Linked DNA regions of Homo sapiens: region 2 is linked to region 1. The links come from fine-mapping of genetic effects on gene expression. Tissue or cell type: whole blood. Region 1 holds a variant in brackets; the other region holds the start of a gene. All regions are shown on one strand. Distances are from middle to middle.

Evidence for each region. PIP is the estimated chance that this variant, and not a neighbour inherited with it, causes the effect.
Region 2: F8 starts here. The variant in region 1 is fine-mapped to the expression of F8 in whole blood (TOPMed, PIP above 0.99).

The regions. Positions count from the first base shown.
Region 1 is chrX:155,104,049-155,112,048 of GRCh38, forward strand. The region is part of intron 7 of BRCC3 (BRCA1/BRCA2-containing complex subunit 3); the gene reads left to right. Among named protein-coding and RNA genes, the nearest start is that of BRCC3, 37 kb to the left of the region's middle. The variant T/A (reference allele first, on the strand shown) is at 3,276.
Region 2 is chrX:155,015,598-155,027,441 of GRCh38, forward strand. It overlaps F8 (coagulation factor VIII), which reads right to left and starts at 7,126. Exons shown (of 26, transcript NM_000132.4): 1 at 6,813-7,126. The coding sequence starts at 6,955. It overlaps FUNDC2 (FUN14 domain containing 2), which reads left to right and starts at 11,247. Exons shown (of 5, transcript NM_023934.4): 1 at 11,247-11,474. The coding sequence starts at 11,342. RefSeq lists silencers at 11,068-11,157, 11,428-11,747.

The DNA of each region.
Region 1 (8,000 bases):
TTTTCTTTTCTATACTTAACATGTTTAATCTTCTAGCTTCTTGAACATACAAAATAGTTATAATATTCATTTTAATGTTTTTGTCCTCCAATTTTGTCACTAAATCAGCATCATTCTGGGCCAATTCCAATTCATTTCCTCTCCTTATAGGTTGGACTCTTCTGCTGCTTTTCATGCCTGATAATTTTTGATTGGATGCAGACACTGTGAATTTTACCTTATTGGGTACTAGATATATTTGTATTCCTAAAAATATTCTTGAGTTTTGTTTCAAGATACTGTTAAAATTATTAGGAAACATTCCTATCCCTTTGGATCTTGCTTTTAAGCTTTGTTAGGCAGAAACAAAGCAGTGTTTAATATAAGGTTCATTTTTTCCCCACTACTGAGGCAAGACCCTTTTTAATACTCTGATGCTTCCAATATTATGAGATTTTCCATTCGGACTGTTGAAAATAGATGCTATTCCTGCCCCTGTGCATACTTTGGAGTTCACTGGAGGGTCTGGACATGTTGTTTCTCTTCCTATGCAGCTCTTTCCTCTACGGTACTTTACTTTGCAAACACAAGCTATCTTGGCCTTCCCAGAGTCTCAGCTCCATTTTCTCAACTCGGCATCTGCCAAGCCCTACCTGGGGGTTCTCCTTGTGCTTCAGCTGGGAAACTTTCTCCAGTTTACCTCTGAGTTCAACCTGATAACTCCAATTCTATTTCCATACTTTAAGGTTCATCCTAGCATTCTCCTTTTTCATATTCACAGTTCTTTTTATTAAGCTTTATTGAGGTATAATTAACATGCAGAATTGCACATATTTAATGTACACATTTTGATGAGTTTGGACATATGCCTAAGAGTGTATACTCAAAATACTTAGCTGGGTTCAGTCTATTTTCCCCCTGACCACTTCAGTGTGGTTATATGATTTATTTGAAAGACAGCTTTTTCTTGTTTGCTTGTTTTCCATTTTAGGATTTTTTTTAACTCATACTTTTTTCCCTTTTAGAGTATATGAAACATCAACATGGTTCAAAAAGTCAAAAGTCAGAACTATATAGAGTTAATTTTGTATAGACTAAGATATGAATCTAATTTTATCTCTTTCTAAATGGCAATCTACCTGTTACAAAACCATTGTTTAAAAAGTTTGTGTTAGGTGGGCACAGTGGCTCATGTCTGTAATCCCAGCACTTTGGGAGGCCGAGGCGCGTGGATCACTTGAGGTCAGGAGTTCGAGAACAGCCTGCCCAACATGGTGAAACCCCATCTCTACTAAAAATACAAAAATTAGCCAAGTGTGGTGGCGCATGCCTGTAATCCCAGCTACTCGGGAGGCTGAGGCAGGAGAATTGCTTGAACCCGGGAGGCGGAGGTTGCAGTGAGCCGAGATTGTGCCACTGCCCTCCAGCCTGGGCGACAGAGTGAGGGAAAATAATAATTAAAAAAAAGCTTATCTTCATGTCAGCAATTTTACATGCCACCTTTTACCATATATGAAAGCTCCCTATTCACTTGGATCTCTTTCTTTTTATTCTGTCTGTCCATTTAGTTACCATCACATAAATTATGGTGGCTTTATTGTATGTTTTATTATCCATAGGGCTAGTCTCCATTGTAGCTTTTCTTTTCTCAGTGTTTCCCTGACTATTCTTTTTGTTTTGTTTTGTTTTGAGACGGAGTCTCGCCCAGTTGTCCAGGCTGGAGTGCAGTGGTGCGATCTTGGCTCACAGCAGCCTCTGCCTCCCGGGATCAAGCTGTTCTCCTGTCTCAGACTCCTGAGTAGCAGGGATTACAGGCACGTGCCATCACACCTGGCTAATTTTTGTATTTTTAGTGGAGACAGGGTTTCACCATGTTGCCCAAGCTGGTCTCGAACTCCCAACCTCCCAAAGTGCTGGGATTACAGGTGTGAGCCCAGGCTTGAGCCACCACGCCCATCCAAGACCCTGACTATTCTTACATGTTTGGTTTTTCATGTGAACCTTACTATCAACTTGTCTAGCTCCAGATAAAAACTTTTTGATATTTCTATTGAGATTGTGTTAAATTTATAAATTAATCTGTGATGTTGCATCATCCTATCCAAGAGCACTGGCTGTCTTTCCACTTGCTGTAGTCTACTTTTGTGTCTTTCGGGAGTGTTGTTTTTCTCATATAGGTTTTGTATATGTCATACTGAAATTTATTCTTAAGCATTTAACTTCTTTTTTGCTTTGTTAATGTTTTTTTTCTATTACATCCTCTGTTTTTTGCTTGTATATTTGAAGGCTACTATTTCTGTATGTAAATTTTTATCTTCCTGAATTCTTTTGTTCTTTGAGTTAATTATACCTTTATTTCTCTAGAGCTTTCCAGATAAGTATCACACTCCATCTGCAAATACTTTTACTTATTTCCCAATTCCTAAACCTCTAATTGATTCCTTAAATATAACTGCATTGCCTAATATCTTCTTTAGAACATTAAATAGTAGTGGAAATAGTAGATGATCTTGTTTTGTTTCTGATCCTTATGGAAATTCCTGTAGCATTTCTTCATTAAGAAAGATTCTGTATTCAGGAAAAATCATAAGTGCTATCAGAAATATTCTTTTTTTGTACTGTCTTTATCAGGTTTAGGTATATATATTACACTTGCTTCAGAAGAATTGTTTGGAGTTTTCTTTCACTGTCTAGGCTGTGACAGAAATGTAAGTAGCAGTGAGACAATCAGTTCTTTGACAATTCCTCTATGAAATCAACTAGGCCTTTTTGTGTTTCTCCTCTGGGAATTTATCTGTTTATGCTTTCTTTCTGTAATGGGGTCAATTTTGGTACAGTTTCCTAAGAAATTATTCATTTTTTATGGTTTGCAAATTTATTTACACAGAGATCTCTCTGCCAGATAGTCTGTCATATTTTAAATCTCTTGTATTTCAATAGTTATCTCCCCCTTGTCATTTCATATTTTGTATATTTGTGCTATTTCTTTTTTCCCTTGGTTATGTTAGCCAGTGGTGTGTCAATTTTGTTATTTTTCCTTGAAACACTGATTTTTATTTAGTTATTTTTTTTCTATTCCCAACCTTACTACTTTTTCTTTTATGTTTATTATTTCCTTCCTTATGTTTCATTTTGGTCATTTTGTTGTGCTTATCTTAGCATTTGGAGTTTGGAATTTAATGAGTATATTTTTTGTCTTTCATTATTATTGATATAAATGCTTAAGGCTGTGAATTTTCCACTGATCTTTGCTTTAAATATATCCCATAGATGCTAAGTAGTATTTTTATTTATTT[T/A]TTTTTTTAAAAGTTCTTTAATTTTAGCACTCACCCATTTTACTTCCTTTCAATTTGGTATCATGGTGTAGCTATTCTAAAATGATCCTGCTCCCTAATGCCCTCAGAATAAAGCCCCAAACCTGCAGCCCTTCATGGTTTGCTTATTTCTCCAGCCATGTTCTCTCTCTGTCATATGCTCACTCTGCCTACAGTTTCCTTTTTCCTTATACCACCTGGCCAATGTCTAGTCATTTTTGAAGATGAAGATCAAATTTAGGAATCCTTCTCTGATAATTCTCAACCCCCAATACCATCCCAGTTAAGCATTCCTCCTGGAAACTTAATAAAATCATATACTTCCTTTTTGTAATACTTATAACATTATATTTTAATATTTTGTTTTTCCACTAACATTGTAAGATCCTTGAAAGAAGGTATGCTTTTTTATTACTGTTCCCATGGTGTTCAGTAAATATTTGTTTAGTGTCCCTTCAGCTGTAGATTTCAAAACTACTATTTTAATGCATACATTCTGACCTGTGAGCTCTAGCATACTCTAGAGCTTCTTTGTCATAAACTTAGTTTGGTTGGTTGGTCTTAGCTTTTCAATTGAAGTGTAACATACAGAAAAGTACACAAATTACAAGTGTCCAGCTCAATCAATTTTCACAAAATGAAAACACCTATGCAACCACAACCCAGATCAGCTCCATGAATTTTTACAAGGTGAACGCCTGTGAAACTGTACTACATATCAAGAAATAGAACCTTACCAGCCCTCCAGAAGCCTCCTTTGTGACTCCTCTCAATTGTTATGCCCTTGTTTTTTTCCCAAAGGTAACCATTATCCTAATCTCTAACAACACAGATTAATTTTGTCTGTTTTTGAATTTTATATAAATGGGAAAATACGGTAAGTACAACTTTGTGTATGGCTTCTTTCACTCTGTTATGGTAGTTCTTTTTTATTGCTGTGTAATATTTCATTGTTGGAAATTACCACAATTTACTTATATGTTCTATTGTTAGGCATTTGGGTTGTTTCCAATTTGGGGCTCTTATGAATAAAGCTGCTATGAAAATAATCCTTACATAAGCCTCTTTTTGCCCATGTGAATGCATATCTTTTCAGTATGTACACAGAAGTGGAATTGCTGGGTTATCACTTTAGTAGAATAGTTTCCAAATTCACATCCTTGCCAACAGTGTATGAAGGTTTTCACAGCTTAACAGCTTCACTGACAATTAGTATTTTCTGACTTTTTCATTTTTTGCAGTTCTGGTGAGTGTGCAGTAGTATCTTATTGTGGTTTTAATTTGGATTTCCCCAGTGACTAATTAGGTTGAACACCTTTTCAAATGTTTATAGGCTTTTTGGATATCCCCTCATGTATAAGTCATATTCATTTTTCTTTAACTTTCTTAGTACTTCAAAAGAATTCCAGTATGTTCTGGATACAAGCTGTCAGCTATACCTATTCCAAGTATCTACTCTCTCACCCTGACCTGGTTTTCACTATCTTAATGGTATCATTTGATGAGCCTAAGTTGTTTATTTAATATAATAGTCCAAATTATCTTTTTATCTTTTCGATCTAGTGCTTTTTAGTGTCCTACACTATTTAAGACATCTTTCCCTATCTGGAAGAGATGCTTTATTATTTCACCATTCGTGCTTAAATCTACAATCTACTTAGTGTTAACTTTAGGATATGATGTGGGATGTGAGTTGACATTCCCTTTTTCCCACGTGTGTATCCAATTGACCTGGCACCATTTATTGCTGCCTTGCCACTTTGCCTTAAATCAGTCGTCCCTATATATATGATTATGTTTCTGGACTCTAGGCGAATTCTGTTTTGTCTATGTGTCTATCCTTGTGTCAGTAACACACTTAGTTGCTGTAGCTTTATAATAAGTCTTGATGATATGCGGTAACATTAGTTCTCCCCTTTGTTGTTATTCTTCAAGACTGTCTTGGCTATTCTTCGCCCTTTGTAGCCCCATATAAATTTTAAAATCGGTTTGTTGATTTCCACAAGAAAACTTGCTGAAACATGTCAGCTGAAATTTGACTGGGATAGAATTGAATCCATTCATCAATTTGATGTATCCCTCCATTTATTTAGATTTTAATTTCTCTATCTTTTGTATTTTTCTGTGAAACATCTGAAAAGATTGCACACATCTTTCATTTAAATTATTCTTGGGAATTTGGTGTTTTATGTTATTGTAATTGGTATCTTTTCATAATTTTCCAGTTGGTACCGGTTATTTAGATAGCAAATTGATATATGTATATTGGCTTTATATCCAGCAGCCTTATGGATATAAATGTACTTATTAATCCTAATGATTTATCTGCAGATTTTATTTCCTTGGGATTTTCTATGTAAACAGTCATGTCTTCCATAAACAAGGGCAATTTAATTTCACCCTTTCCAATCTTTACACCTTTTTATTTCTCTTTCATGCCTTATTATACTGTCTCAGTCTTCCAGTAAAATTTATGAATAAAATGTAAAAGAGAATGCTTTAAAATTTCCCAATTATCTCTGGTGTTTAATTTAGCTTTTCTGTAGTTAGCCTCTATCATATTAAGGAAGTTCCCTTGTATTTCTAGTATTCTAAGCCTCTTTTTTATGATTGAATGTTGAATTTTATCAAATGCTCCTTCTGCATTTATTAAGATAATCATATGATTATTTGCCTTAATGTGGTAAGTCGCATGAACTGATTTCTGAATCTTAACCCAGCTTTGCATTCCTTAGTCACTGTATATTATCTCTTTAGTGTATTCACTAGGCTAATCTTTTTAGGAATTATATATCTTTTTCATAAATAAGATTGATCCATAATTTTCTTTTCTTTAAACACCTTTGCTAGATTTTGATATCATGGTTTTGCTGGCTGCATAGTACAAAGTAGAAAATGTTCCCATATCTCGATTTTCTGAAATGGTTTGTGTAAGTTTGGGTTTTTTCTTTAAATGTTTGATAGAATGTAACAGATTAGCAATGTCAGTGTGGAGTTTTCTTTGTGTAAAGTTTTAAATTATAGGTTCAGTTTCTTTAAAATATGTAGGATTATTCTGATTTTCTGTATCGTTTTAGTTTTGGCAAGTTGTGCTTTTCTAGGAATTTATCCTAGAACTTTAGTTTACATTGTTCACAATATCTTCTTATTATTCTTTTAAAGTTTGTAGGATCCGAAGTGATTTCTCTTTTTTCATTCCTTACATTAGTAATTTTTGTGTTCTCTGTTTTTACCTTGATCAGTCTTGGTGGGGGTTTATTAATGATATCAGTCTTTTCAAAAGAGCCATAAATGTCCCTTTAAGCACTGCTTTGGGTACATCCATAATTTTTATTTACTATCCTTCAGTTCAAAGTATTTCCCTTGTGATATTATTACCCTTGTGATTTACTTTGATGTAGGTGTTATTTAGAAATATTTCATAAGATGAAATCAACACATGCTGCCCCTATATCTCACTGAACTCAACTATATACTCTGGAAAGAATGCCAAGCCTAGCTATTTGTGAACTCTGGAATGTAAATAACAGGCAGATTGGAGAAGGGCCCCAAAACTCAAAATACCACAGAAGTGGGGATATAAACAAGATCCAAAGTCTCATAACTTAATATCCAAAATAACCAGGACATAAACCAAAGTTATTTAACATATTAAGAACCACAGAAATCTCATCTTGTATGGGAGAAGATAATCAACAGATACAAAAGGCAAGATGACACTTATGTTGGAAATATCTGACAAGACTTTAAAAGCTGCCATTATGAAAATGCTCAAGCTATCAGTCACAAAAATGTTGCAACAAATATTTAAAAAGAAAAAGTATCATATAAGAAATAGAAGATAAAAAGAAGCAAATGTAAATTTTACAACTGAAAAATATAACAACCAAAAATTTTAAACTCTAGATTAAAAGTGAGAATGCAGTGGAAATGCCAGAGGAAAGAGTCAGTAAACTTGAAGATAGATTAATAGAATTATCCAAGCTGGATAACAGACAGAAAAGACTGGGAAAAAAGGGACAGAGTTTCAGAGAACTGTAGAAAAACCACAAAAGGTAGCAAAGGATAGACATATAAATCAGTGGAATAGAATTGTGAGTCCATAAGTCAACCTGTACATTTCTGGTCAATTGATCTTCAACAACTGTGCCATGATAATTCAACAGGGAAATAAGAGGCAATTCAACAAATGGTGCTGGGACAGCTGGATATCCACATGCAAAAAGAATAATGCTGGACCACTATCTTCACCCAATATACAAAAATTAAAATGGATCAAAGATCTAAATAGAAGAGCTAAAACAATACAACTTTAGAAGAAAACATAGGGGTACATCTTCATGACCTTCAATTTGGCACTAATTTCTTAAATATGACATCAAATGCACAAGGGAGAAAGGAAAAACAGATAAATTGGATTTGATAAAAATTAAAAACTTTTGTGCATCACAGCACATTATCAAGAAGGTGAAAATAACCTACAGAATCAGAAAAAATAGTGGCAAATTACAAAAAGCAGTCTCCCCTTATCTTTGGGGAATATGTTCCAAGAACCCCAGTGGAGGCCTGAAACCACAGATAGTACTGACCCCTATTACACCATGTTTTCTTATACACGCACACCTGTGATAAAGTTTAGTTTATAAATTAGGCACAGTATGAGATTAACAACAACAATAGTAAAATAGAACAATTATAACAATATAT
Region 2 (11,844 bases), 87 kb before region 1:
AGTGGGAGCTAAATGATGAGAACACATGGACATAGAATAATAGACACTGGAGACGACTAGAGGAAAGAGGGAGGAGGAAGGGTAGCAAGGAGTGAAAAACCACCTATTGGGTACTATGTTCACTACTTCAGTGACAGGATCATTCATTCGTAACCCAAACTTCAGCACCATGCAACATACTCATGTAACAAACCTGCACATGTACCTCCTCAGTCTAAAATAAAAGTTGAAACTACGTTTAAAAACAAAGGACCAATGATTTGAATAGACACTTCCAAGAAGATATAGGAATGGCTAATTAGCACATGCAAAGATGCTCAACATCTTTAGTCATCAGAGACACGCAAATTAAAAGTATAACCAGGTGCAGTGGCTCAAGCCGTAATCCCAACATTTTGGGAGGCCGAGGCGGGTGGATCACTTGAGGCCAGGAGTTTGAGACCAGCCTGGCCAACATGGCAAAACCCCGTCTCTACCAAAAATACAAAAATTAGCTGGGCACGGTGGCGTGTGACCATAGTCCTAGCTACTCAGGAGGCTGAGGCATGAGAATTGCTTGAGCCTAGGAGGCAGATGTTGAGCTGAGATTGCGCCACTGCACTCCAGCCTGTGTGATGGGATGAGATTCCATCTCAAAAAAAAAAAAAAGTATAGTGAGATACCACTGTGCAGTCATTAAGTACTGGCAACATCAAATGTTGTCCAGGATATATTGCAACTGGAACTCTCATGCATTGCTGGTGGGAGTATAGAATGGTACGTTCAAGAAATCTGTCTGGCAGTTTCTCTTAAACATGCACTTACCATATGATCCAGCAATTCCACTCCTAGATATTTAACTAAGATAAATGAAAATAGATGTTCACACAAAACATGTGGAGCACTGTTCATAGCAGGTTTATTTGTATTTGCTCCTAACTGGAAATAATCCAAAATTATGATATAATCCCATAATGGAGCAGTAATCAGCAATAAAAAGGATAGAAATACTTTATACAACAACCTGCATGAATTTCCAAATCATGATGCTGAAGAAAAAAAGCCATAGAAGAATACATACCGTATGATTCCACTGATGTAAAATTCTAGAACATGTGAAAACAAATCTGTAACTTCCAGATAGCAGTTTATTGGCTGAGGCCAGGTCAGTGGGAGAGACTCATTAAAAAGTTGCAGGAGGGTTGATGTAAATGCATGTTGATTAGGGTGGTGGTTATGCAAGTGTATGCATTTGTCAAAACTCATCAAACTGCATATTTAAAATTGATGAGCTTCATTGTATGTAAACTATACCTGTGGCAGGTAAAAATTTGGCCCACATCACCTTTGCTCCTTGGTGTCATGTCCAAAAATATATTATGTGGCAAATTAAACTTTGCAGATGGAATTAAGGGGCTGATTAGCTGACCTTGAGATGGGGAGAGTATTCTGAATTACCCAGGTCGGCCCAATGTAATCACATGAGTCCTTAAAAGTAAAAGAGAGAGGCAAAAAAGGCCAGAGATATGCACGGAAAATTGAAGTCAGAGCAATTCCAAGCATGAGAGAGTGTTGATGCACCATTGCTGGTAGAGGGCACTACATGGAAAGTGAGAGAAGGAACTGAATTTGCTAACATTCCAAATGAGCCTGTAAGCAGATTCTCCCCAAGAGCTTTCACTAAGGAGTGCAGCCCTATTAAAACCTTGGTGTTGGCCTTGTATGACCCTGCACAGAGTATCCAGCTGAGTCCACCTGGACTTCTAACTCACAGAAACTGTGAGACAGTAAATGGGTCTGTCATAAGCTGATACATTTGATGTAGTTTGTTACACAGCAATAGGAAATTAACAGGATATTCAATGTTGACCCAAATACTACAAACTAACTTGATAAACAAATTTAAAAAGCAATTAAAATCATACGTCTAGATTATCAAAGATGAAATCAAAGAAGATATTACAAACTATTCTGAAAAAAATGAAAAGAAAACCCTTCATGCTATACCATTTTACAATGTATACTTACATCAAAACATTATCTTGTACACCTTAAATATATACAACTTTTATTTGTCAATTATACCACAATAAAGCTGGGGTGGGGTGGGATAGAATTACCTGGGGACTAAATAGTTTGCTGAGGATGGGGCCTAGGAATGTAAATTTTAATAAGCTTCCCGAGTGATTCTTATGCACACTGAAGTTTGAGAACTAGTGCCTTCATGGACTTCAGCTTTGGGGTGAGCTTTAAGAAAGTCAGGGTCCAGTTAATGAATATGAGAGATACTGCTTTTTTTTATTTTTTTATTTTTTGAAATGGAGTCTCACTCTGTCACCTAGGCTGAGCACAATCTTAGCTCACTGCCACCTCCGCCTCCTAGGTTCAAGCAATTCTCCTGCCTCAGCCTCCTCAGTAGCTGGGATTACAGGTGAGCACCACCATGCCCAGCTAATTTTTTTTTTTTTTTTGGTAGACACGGAGTTTTGCCATGTTGGCTAGGCTGGTGTCAAACTCCTGACCTCAGGTGATCTGCCTGCCTCGGCCTCCCAAAGTGCTGGGATTACAGGCATGAACCACCATACCTGGCCGATTGCTTATTTATATCTCCAAGCTTCACTGATCAGAAAATACTTTTCCTGAAAAGTTATCCTACAGAAATCAGATCATGTTGAGAGGATAAGTCTCTGGAATGTTAATAAAGGTATATGGAGCTAGCATAGTTGAACTGTTCACTTTTTGCATAAGAAATCTCACTGTTCATGTTTTCCCATCAGACAAAATAAAACAGACTGACGAGTTTTATATATTAATGTGTGAACAGTGCATAGCTACATGCCAATAAAGCAGCACAGTTAATGAATCAATAGCTTCTTTTTCTGCTCAGTGAAAATAAAAATGCTTTATACCAACTAGAAAAAAAAAAAATCCAAAAGCCCATTCTTTGAAAAGAGCACCACCAGCAACAAAATAGACAAGTCATTGGCAAGCTTATTCAAGGAAAAAAAGATAAATAGCAAAGATAGAGGAATTTAGGAATAAGAAAGGGCACATAACTACAGATAATGTGGAGTAAAAGAATCATGAGTGAGTGCTACATGCAACACTGTGGCAACAAAATTGAAAAAATAAATAAAGTTACTTCCTAGAAAGGTATATAATTATTGGAAGTTGAAACTTGAATTGACTGATTATCATAGAAGAGCCTGGAGGGGTGATTAAAGATATTGCAAATGCCACTAGGACCAAATGGATTCATAAGTGAGTCTCACCTAACTTTTAGACAATGGATAATTCAAATGTTACTTAAGCTATTCTAAGCAATAGAAAAAGATGGAGTACTCATCAATTCATTTGATAAAGCCAACAAAACTTTGTTTATTATTATTAGTAGGTTGAGTAGTGAAAATCTACTAAGAATAGTCTAAAGAAATAGTACATAGAACCCACTAATGATCAAATTCCATGAATAGTAGATTTTACTCCAAGAATGTAAGGGTATTTAGTGTCAGGACATCTATGAACATAATTTGTTCATCAGCATATCAAAGAAGACAATTCAGATGATACCAGCTGCTGAAAACTTATTTATGATAAACATTTTGTGGCAAATGAGAATAGAATAAACACCATTTACAAAAACCAAAACAGCAAATGTTACTCTAAATAGCAAAATACAAAAATTATTTCAAGTAAAATCATAGAGTAGAAGGAATGTTCACTTTCATTGTTATTATTTAACATTTGCTCTTGTTTTCTAATAAATTCAATAAGATAAGAAAATGAAATAACTGGCTATAAATATTGGAAATGAGCTAAAATCTGTCTCATTTAACTTATGATATGATTCAATACTCACAGAGACTTTAGGGTAAAATTACTAGAATTAATAGGCAAATTTGGTAAGGTAGCTAGATTTAAGATGAATATACAATGGCTGGGTGCGGTGGCTCAAACCTGTAATCCTAGCTCTTTGGGAGGCTGAGGTGGGGGGAATGCTTGAGCTCAGGAGTTGAAAACCAGCCTGGGTAACATGGCAAAAACCCATCTCTAAAAAATATACAAAAATTTTCCGGGCATGGTGGCCTGCTCCTGTAGTCCCAGCTACTTGGGGGGCTGATATACAGGAGAATTGCTTGAATCCAGGAGGTTGAGGCTGCAGTAAGGTGAGATCACCCCACTGCACTCCAGCCTGGGTGACAAAATGAGACCCAGGCTCAAAAGAAAAAGCTGAAAATACACAAACCAATAGCTTATCTCTATTTGGTACTAAGCACTCATAAATGGAAATAGGAGAAAACTATCTTATTAACAATAGCATCACACTTATAAAATACACAGAGATAAATGTAATAAGAAAAATATTTAAATTTATTACATTAATAAAATTAAGGTCTGAGTTTAATGAAATTGCAGTTAGAATCACAACAGGGCTTGGATCTTTTTAATTTGAAAAATATCTTAACAGTTTTATGTGGAAGAATAAAGTGTCTAAGAATAGCTAAGAAAGGTACAAAAAGAATAGTGAGGATTGCTTTCACCCACCAGATATCAGAAGATATCATAGGCTCACTGTAATCAAATCACTATGGTACTGGCATAGCAAGATAATAGTAGATTAGTGAAACAGCCTAATGAATCCAGAAATATATGCTAATATATATGAGAACTTTATATGATGAATGTGTTGATTCAAATCAGTGGCAAAAGGTGCCATCACAATAGGCTATTGATCTGGATGGAAATAAAACTAGACAAATCCCTCTCTCATGCCATATGACAAAAGTAATTAGCAGATAATTGAAGCAATGCATATAAAAAGCGAAACAGTAAACATCTTGCAAGAAAATCTGGGAGATTACACGTACAATCTTGAGGTGTGGGAAACATTTTTAACCAACCTTGCCGACTCTGAAGATATGAAAGAAAAGATATCTCTGATTATAAAAATTAAAAACTGTTTTGGTAAAAGTTATAAGAAAGTCAACAGACAAACAATAGATCTTGGGGAAAACTGCAATATACATGACAAAGAGTTAATATTTGTAATAATAAAAGGGTTCTCATAATTTTTTTAAATGAAAGAGTCCAAAGAATAATGGGCAAATCATATGACTAATTAAATCCCCCAAATAAATCCAATAGCCAACAAGCATTTAAAAAGATGCTCAACTTATTAGAAATAAAAATAACACAATGAAAGTAATGATGCAATATCACTCTACACCTGTAAAATTGGCAAATTTTAAAAACAGGATAAAACTTATCGCTATGTGAATGCAGAGAGAAGGCCATTTTCATACTTCGATGGTAGAAATGTTTGAAAAGTTCTGACCTCTTTGGAAATTAAAACTTAGAAGGAAACATTCCCTTCGTTCCATTAATATTCCTCTTGCAAGTTTGTTCAACAGAAGTAAAAGCACCAGTATGTAATGATATAGGATATAGTAGCCAAAAACTGGAATAAAGTGAACATATTGACTAAATTGTGATACAGCCATACCATAGAATCTTATATAGCCAATAAAAATAATGAATTAAAGCTATACCAATTGACTTAGAGTTCTAGTACGTGTTAATGAGTGAGAAATGTGTGTATAATGTCCCAATTTTATAAAACAAATAATGTCCAAGAAAACCTTTGTGTGTGTGTATGTGTATGTGAATATATATTATCATACTGGGGTTACCTAGCTGAGGTGGGGGAGAAGGGGACTGATGTGGAAAGAGGGTGGGGAGCCAAACAGAAAGAACCAAAAAGAATATAAAGTATGTACAACATGACCACATTTAATGTTTACACAGCCACAATCTATGTATTATATTTAAATCTTTATAATACACATTTAAAGAAGACAAAAAAATAAAATAAATGATTTCAGCATTCAACTCAAGAAGCAAAAATCTAACAACAAAATGAACCAAAGGAAATTAGAAGGAAGGAATAAATCAATGAAAGTAGAAGCAGAAACTGATGCAACAGAAAGAAAAAAGAGATTGATAAATCAAACCAAAAGAAAATTCTTGACAAGACCAATAAAATCAAGAAAACTCCTGGAAATATTATTTTTAAAAGAGAGGAAGAGAACATATACAACATAAGGAATGAAAAAGAAAATATAACTACAGACACAGAACAGTTTAACAAAATCACAGGAGACTCTTACATAACTTGATACCAATACATTATCAAATCTAGGGACAGTAGATTGCTTTCTATGAAAGTATAGACCAAAATATACCAATATTTACTGAAGAAGAGGTAGAAAAATCTGAATCAACTGATGACCATAGACAATATTGATAAAGTTATTTAATACTCTGCCTAAATGCACCAGAACCCCCAAAACACGAAAAGCTTCTGAACTCAAGGCTCATATTATCCTTACACCCAAAGTAGGAAAAGATATTATAAAAACACACATTGCATGTACACACAAGAGAACCAGACATGAAACTTGTGTGTGATATTGATTGGATTTCATTGCCTTGATTCTCTCTATGGAAGCTTGGGCAGGCAGAGGGAAGTTTTGTCTTTGTCCCTTCACCCTCCCTCTACTCCAGTCTCTAGATTCTGGAGGAGCAGCATATGACGAAGAGAAGCAATGGACAAAACAGAACAAAATATCAACAAATAGGTCAGACCTATGAAAAGAATTGGCAGTTAGCATTTCTGCTAATAACACAGATGTGTGCACACCTTACCCAGAAATGTTTCTTTGGGGCCCAGGTAGCATCACAACCATCCTAACCCGATGTCTGCACCTTCCTCCAAGCAGACTTACATCCCCACAATCCTGGCCCCGATCAGACCCTACAGGACATGCCTTTACCTTGCGTCCACAGGCAGCTCACCGAGATCACTTTGCATATAGTCCCATGACAGTTCCACTGCACCCAGGTAGTATCTTCTGGTGGCACTAAAGCAGAATCGCAAAAGGCACAGAAAGAAGCAGGTGGAGAGCTCTATTTGCATGACTTATTGCTACAAATGTTCAACTGGAGAAGCAAAAGGTTAATTCTTCTCTAAAATATCTTTAGCTCCCAGGAGGGGAAAAAAGTAAAATTTCTGATTTAATGAAAAGTCCCAATTTCTTTGCAGAGCATTTTAAGGAACTTTACCCACTGGATGTGCTCAGCACTAAGCAGTAACCGATAGGATTGCTTCCTTTTTATCAGTGGGAAGCAGCCACAGGAAGAACTGAAGTAGCAAAAGGGAGGCTGCTAAACTTAACCCATTCACTTCTGAGAGCAGTAGGGGCATAAGTCTGCTTTAATCAGAACCTTTAAGGAAAGGAGGAGAGGGATGGAGAAGTCAAAGTGAACAGGAGCTTTAATTTGTGCTCCTATTCCTAGCCTACTCCAACCCTCTTCCTGAGTGGCAGCAGCAAGAGAAGTTCTGGATGTTGTCGAAGATTCTAGAATTCACTTGCACTAGCAAGAGTAACCAGCAACCTGTTAGTCTCTCTGCTTTTGCCCTTGCCCCTCACACTGCTGCCAGTATGAGGAATTTATAGTTTTTAAAACTGTAGTTTTACATATAACATGAGGTTAGGCAACTATTGTTTTAAAAACTATAATTTATAGTTATAATTTAAAACTATAAAGCGAGTCCTGTCACTCCTCTTCTCAGAATCCTCCAATGGCTTCTGACCTCCATCAGGGTAAAACCCTACATCTTTACCATGGCCTAGGTCCTAGAGCATCCCACATGGTCTGCATGCCCTTTCTCCTGACCTCTGTAGTCTCATCTCACTCTGGTTATACTGGTCTCCTTACTCTTCCCTAAAATATCAAGCACACTCATGCCCCTGGACCTCAACACTTGCTATTTCTTTTACCCAAAACACCTTTCCCCCAGATTTCCACGTAGTTCCACTCCCACAACTCCTTCACATTTCAGCTCCAATCTTCCCTGTTGAATGAGGTTTAAATATGGAACACCACATTTATGTTGTAAGCTCTTTACCCCCACCTGCATCACTGATATCCCTCTTGGCTTCATTTTTCTCAATAGCACTCATAACCACCTGGCATTTATTCATTTATTTATTTTGTTTTGTTTTTAACCTAACACTTTTCCAGGCTGTTTACATTTGGCCCAGGTATAGGATATATCTCTTTACATCAGAATGTAGCCATGGTGAGCTCAAACACCCTACTCAGGTTAATGTTTATTAGGGAGAGTGAGGGCCCCTGCAGGGGCCTCAAAGTGTAAGAGATTATGAGAAGAAACTTGATCAGGGTTGCTATAAAAATGTTATCATTGAGCTCAGTTCTGCACAAACAAGAATGTGTTAGGGAGCAATTGGTATATTGTCGACTGGTTTGGAAACAGGCAGCAAGAAGCCCCTTTGATAAACACTCCTCTCTGACAGGTACAAGGATGCAGAGATGACAGCTGACACTATATGCCAGGAACTGTTCTAGGTGCTTTTAAATACAGGTACTATTCTTACCTTCATTTTATGGGTGATGAAACTGAAGCACGGAGAGGTTAGGCAACTTCTCCATGGCCACACAGCTTGTGAGTGGTAGCATTCAAACCCATGTACTCTGGCTCCAGAAGTCATGCTCCTAACCACTATGCTATACTTCTATGCCTCAGAAATGAAGAAATCCCAGTTCCCAACCCCCTGGGAATGACAGTCCAATGGAGGAGACAGAAAAGTAGACAGTTACAGTACAGGGTGATAAATTCACTGCCAGGTGCTACACATAGGCTATCTGATTTAATCCTCATGACAACACCGCAAAGTGGATACAGATAAAGTAACTGAGGTACAGAGAGGTTAAATGGCTTGCCTACAGCCACATAACTACCCATTTGTCCTAGACAGATATTGTCCTAGGCACTGGGTACACATTGATGAAAAATATAAGCAACTGAAAGAGGGATGATAAGCAATAATTACAATACATGAGTACATTATACAGTATGTTAGAAGGTAAAATAAGTGCTGTGCAAAAAAGAGAAGTGGGGTAAGGGGGAGTAAGGGTGGACCAGGTTGCAATTTTAAAGGAGGTTAGTCATGGAAAGTTTCACTAAGGTTGCATTTCAGCAAAGGGACATTGACTTCTACACTGAGGGCAATGGGGAGACACGGCCGGGTTGTGAGTAGAGGAGGGTGGTGATCAGAATTATCTTTTAGGCTGATCTTTCTGATCACTGTAGATAAAACAAACTCTAGCAGGATAAGGGTAGAAGGAGGGTGGCCTGTTAACCGGGGGTGAGAAATGGTGGCGGCTTGGGCTATGATGGTACCACTGGAGAGGGTGAAAAATGGCTGGATTCATTGTGAGGGTAACGTTTGTGGGAACTGCTGATGAATTTTGGATCTGTGGGCTTTGAGAAGGAAAAATTTGGAACACCAAGTTTTTTGGAATAAAGTTGACTAACTGGGATGGGGATGACTGCATGAGTAGCTTAGGGGCGGGGCACACTGTTAAAGGGCTCCTCAGGCACTGCAGGCATAGAAGCTCCTTTCTTTCCCAGTGCTTCTCTTATAGCGATTACAATGTTTTAAAAATGTGTCTTCCAGACAAATACAGTACAATCCAACATGTTTGAGGTTCTACAGTTAACAGATTGTATAATTAATAATCTGGGTGGGAATGTTAATCAGGAATGAAATACAATTTAAAAATTAACAAAGTAATGAGTCAGAGGCTATATTGATAGAAGCACTTTTTAAGGAATAGCATTCCCTGGCCCAAGGGCTTAGTTGATTGAAAATTTTATCTATTATTGCTAAATTTTAAATCAAAATATGGCCGGGCACGGTGGCTCACACCTGTAATCCCAGCACTTTGGGAGGCTGAGGCGGGCAGATCACGAGGTCAGGAGATCTAGACCATCCTAGCTAACAAGATGAAACTCCTCCTCTACTAAAAATACAAAAAATTAGCCGGGCATGGTGGCACGTGCCTGTAGTCCCAGCTACTTGGGAGGCTGAGGCAGGAGAATCGCTTGAACCCGGGAGGTGGAGCTTGCAGTGAGCCGAGATCGCGCCACTGCACTCCAGCCTGGGCAACAAGAGCGAGACTCTGTCTCAAAAATAAAATAAATAAATAAATAAATAAATAATCAAAATAGACCCCATTACCAAATTTTCATGTTTTCAAGGATTCTCTAAAACCTACAATATTATCAATTACATATTCACAAATAATTACTGAATACAATATGGTATGTGGTAAAGTACAAAGGAGTACTGTGGCCATTTGTGATAAATAGAAATCAAATTGGAAATCTTCATAGATAACGTATTTTTTCTTTTTTTTTTGGAGACGCAGTCTCACTCTGTCGCCCAGGCTGGAGTGCAGTGTCGCGATCTCGGCTCACTGCAAGCTCCGCCTCCCGGGTTCACGCCATTCTCCTGCCTCAGCCTCCCGAGTAGCTGGGACTACAGGCGGCCGCCACCATGCCCGGCTAATTTTTTGTATTTTTAGTAGAGACGGGGTTTCACCATGTTAGCCAGGATGGCCTCGATCTCCTGACCGCGTGATCCGCCCGCCTCGGCCTCCGAAACTGCTGAAATTACAGGCGTGAGCCACCGCGCCCGGCCAGATAAGGTATATTTTTATTCCTTTTATTTTTACTCAACTCCTATGGTGCCACAAAATCCTATATTAAGCAGTATAATTGAAAAGAAAAAGAAAACAATAGCACAATGATTATAAAGAAAATAGCCTGAGTTAACTTCATTTGTGTCACTCCTAAAGCAGTGGATCAGATGTCAATGTTTATTATCATTCACTAATTACATTTATGAATAATTTTTAAAAGTAAAGGAAAAGACTGGCTGTTTTAACTAACATAATAGAAACTGTTGCTGGATTTTCTGTTGAAGGTATATTTTGAAGTGAGTTTTATTAAGTATAACTCGCATGTAAAATTCAAAAGAAAAATTAAATACATAAATAAAATGTGTCTTCCTCCACTAAAAGAGTAGGACACATCGCAGAAGCCGATAAATATTTGTTCAATGTTTACATGAACAAACACGGTCACTCAGCCGTCTTTATTTTCAGTGAGTCATAGGTAAAATATTCTTCACCAGGCGAGGATTGAGTCGCAGTCGCGTCAGGAACTCGCCTCCAGGTACTGAGCGAGCGAGCCCCGACGGCCGCGGTGGGTGGAGGGGGGAAAGTGGGGGAGAGTGGGGCGGGAGTAGAGGGAGAGCGAGGGAGGGAGCCTCACCCCCGGGACGCTTTCTGCGCACGCGCATCTCGGTGCATCTGTTGGGCGGGACCGCGGGGCCTGTGACACCGCACGCTGAGCTCTGTGATGTAGCCGCTTGCGGAGACTGCAAGCAGCCGCGGCGCGCCCGGCCCTCCCTCTTCCGCTGCCGCCGTGGGAATGGAAACATCTGCCCCACGTGCCGGAAGCCAAGTGGTGGCGACAACTGCGCGCCACTCCGCGGCCTACCGCGCAGATCCTCTACGTGTGTCCTCGCGAGACAAGCTCACCGAAATGGCCGCGTCCAGTCAAGGTAAGGGCGGGCGCGCGCGCGGCCGGCGCCGCGGGGAGCCGCCTTCCTGGGCTCCGGAAGGGGAAGGGCTCCGCGCCCGCCAGTCGCGACCGAGCTCCCCGGGGAGTCCAAGCGGCGCGGGGACGGGGAGGGCGCTCGGGGATCGCCCCTGGCTCAGCCGCTCCCAGGGTCCGGCCAAGGTCACGCGCGTGTCTGGGGCCTAACCACCCTGGGGTGTCGTCTCCAGTGGAGCTCACCCAGCCTTCCGGCGCCGCCCCCGGCGCAGAAGCCCGAAGACATTCTGTCCCCGTTCTCGGAAGCGGTCTGGCTTCTTTGTCCCTTTGGACGTTCATCTCAAATGCCTCGTGGCGTCATTCTGTGTACAAGGCAC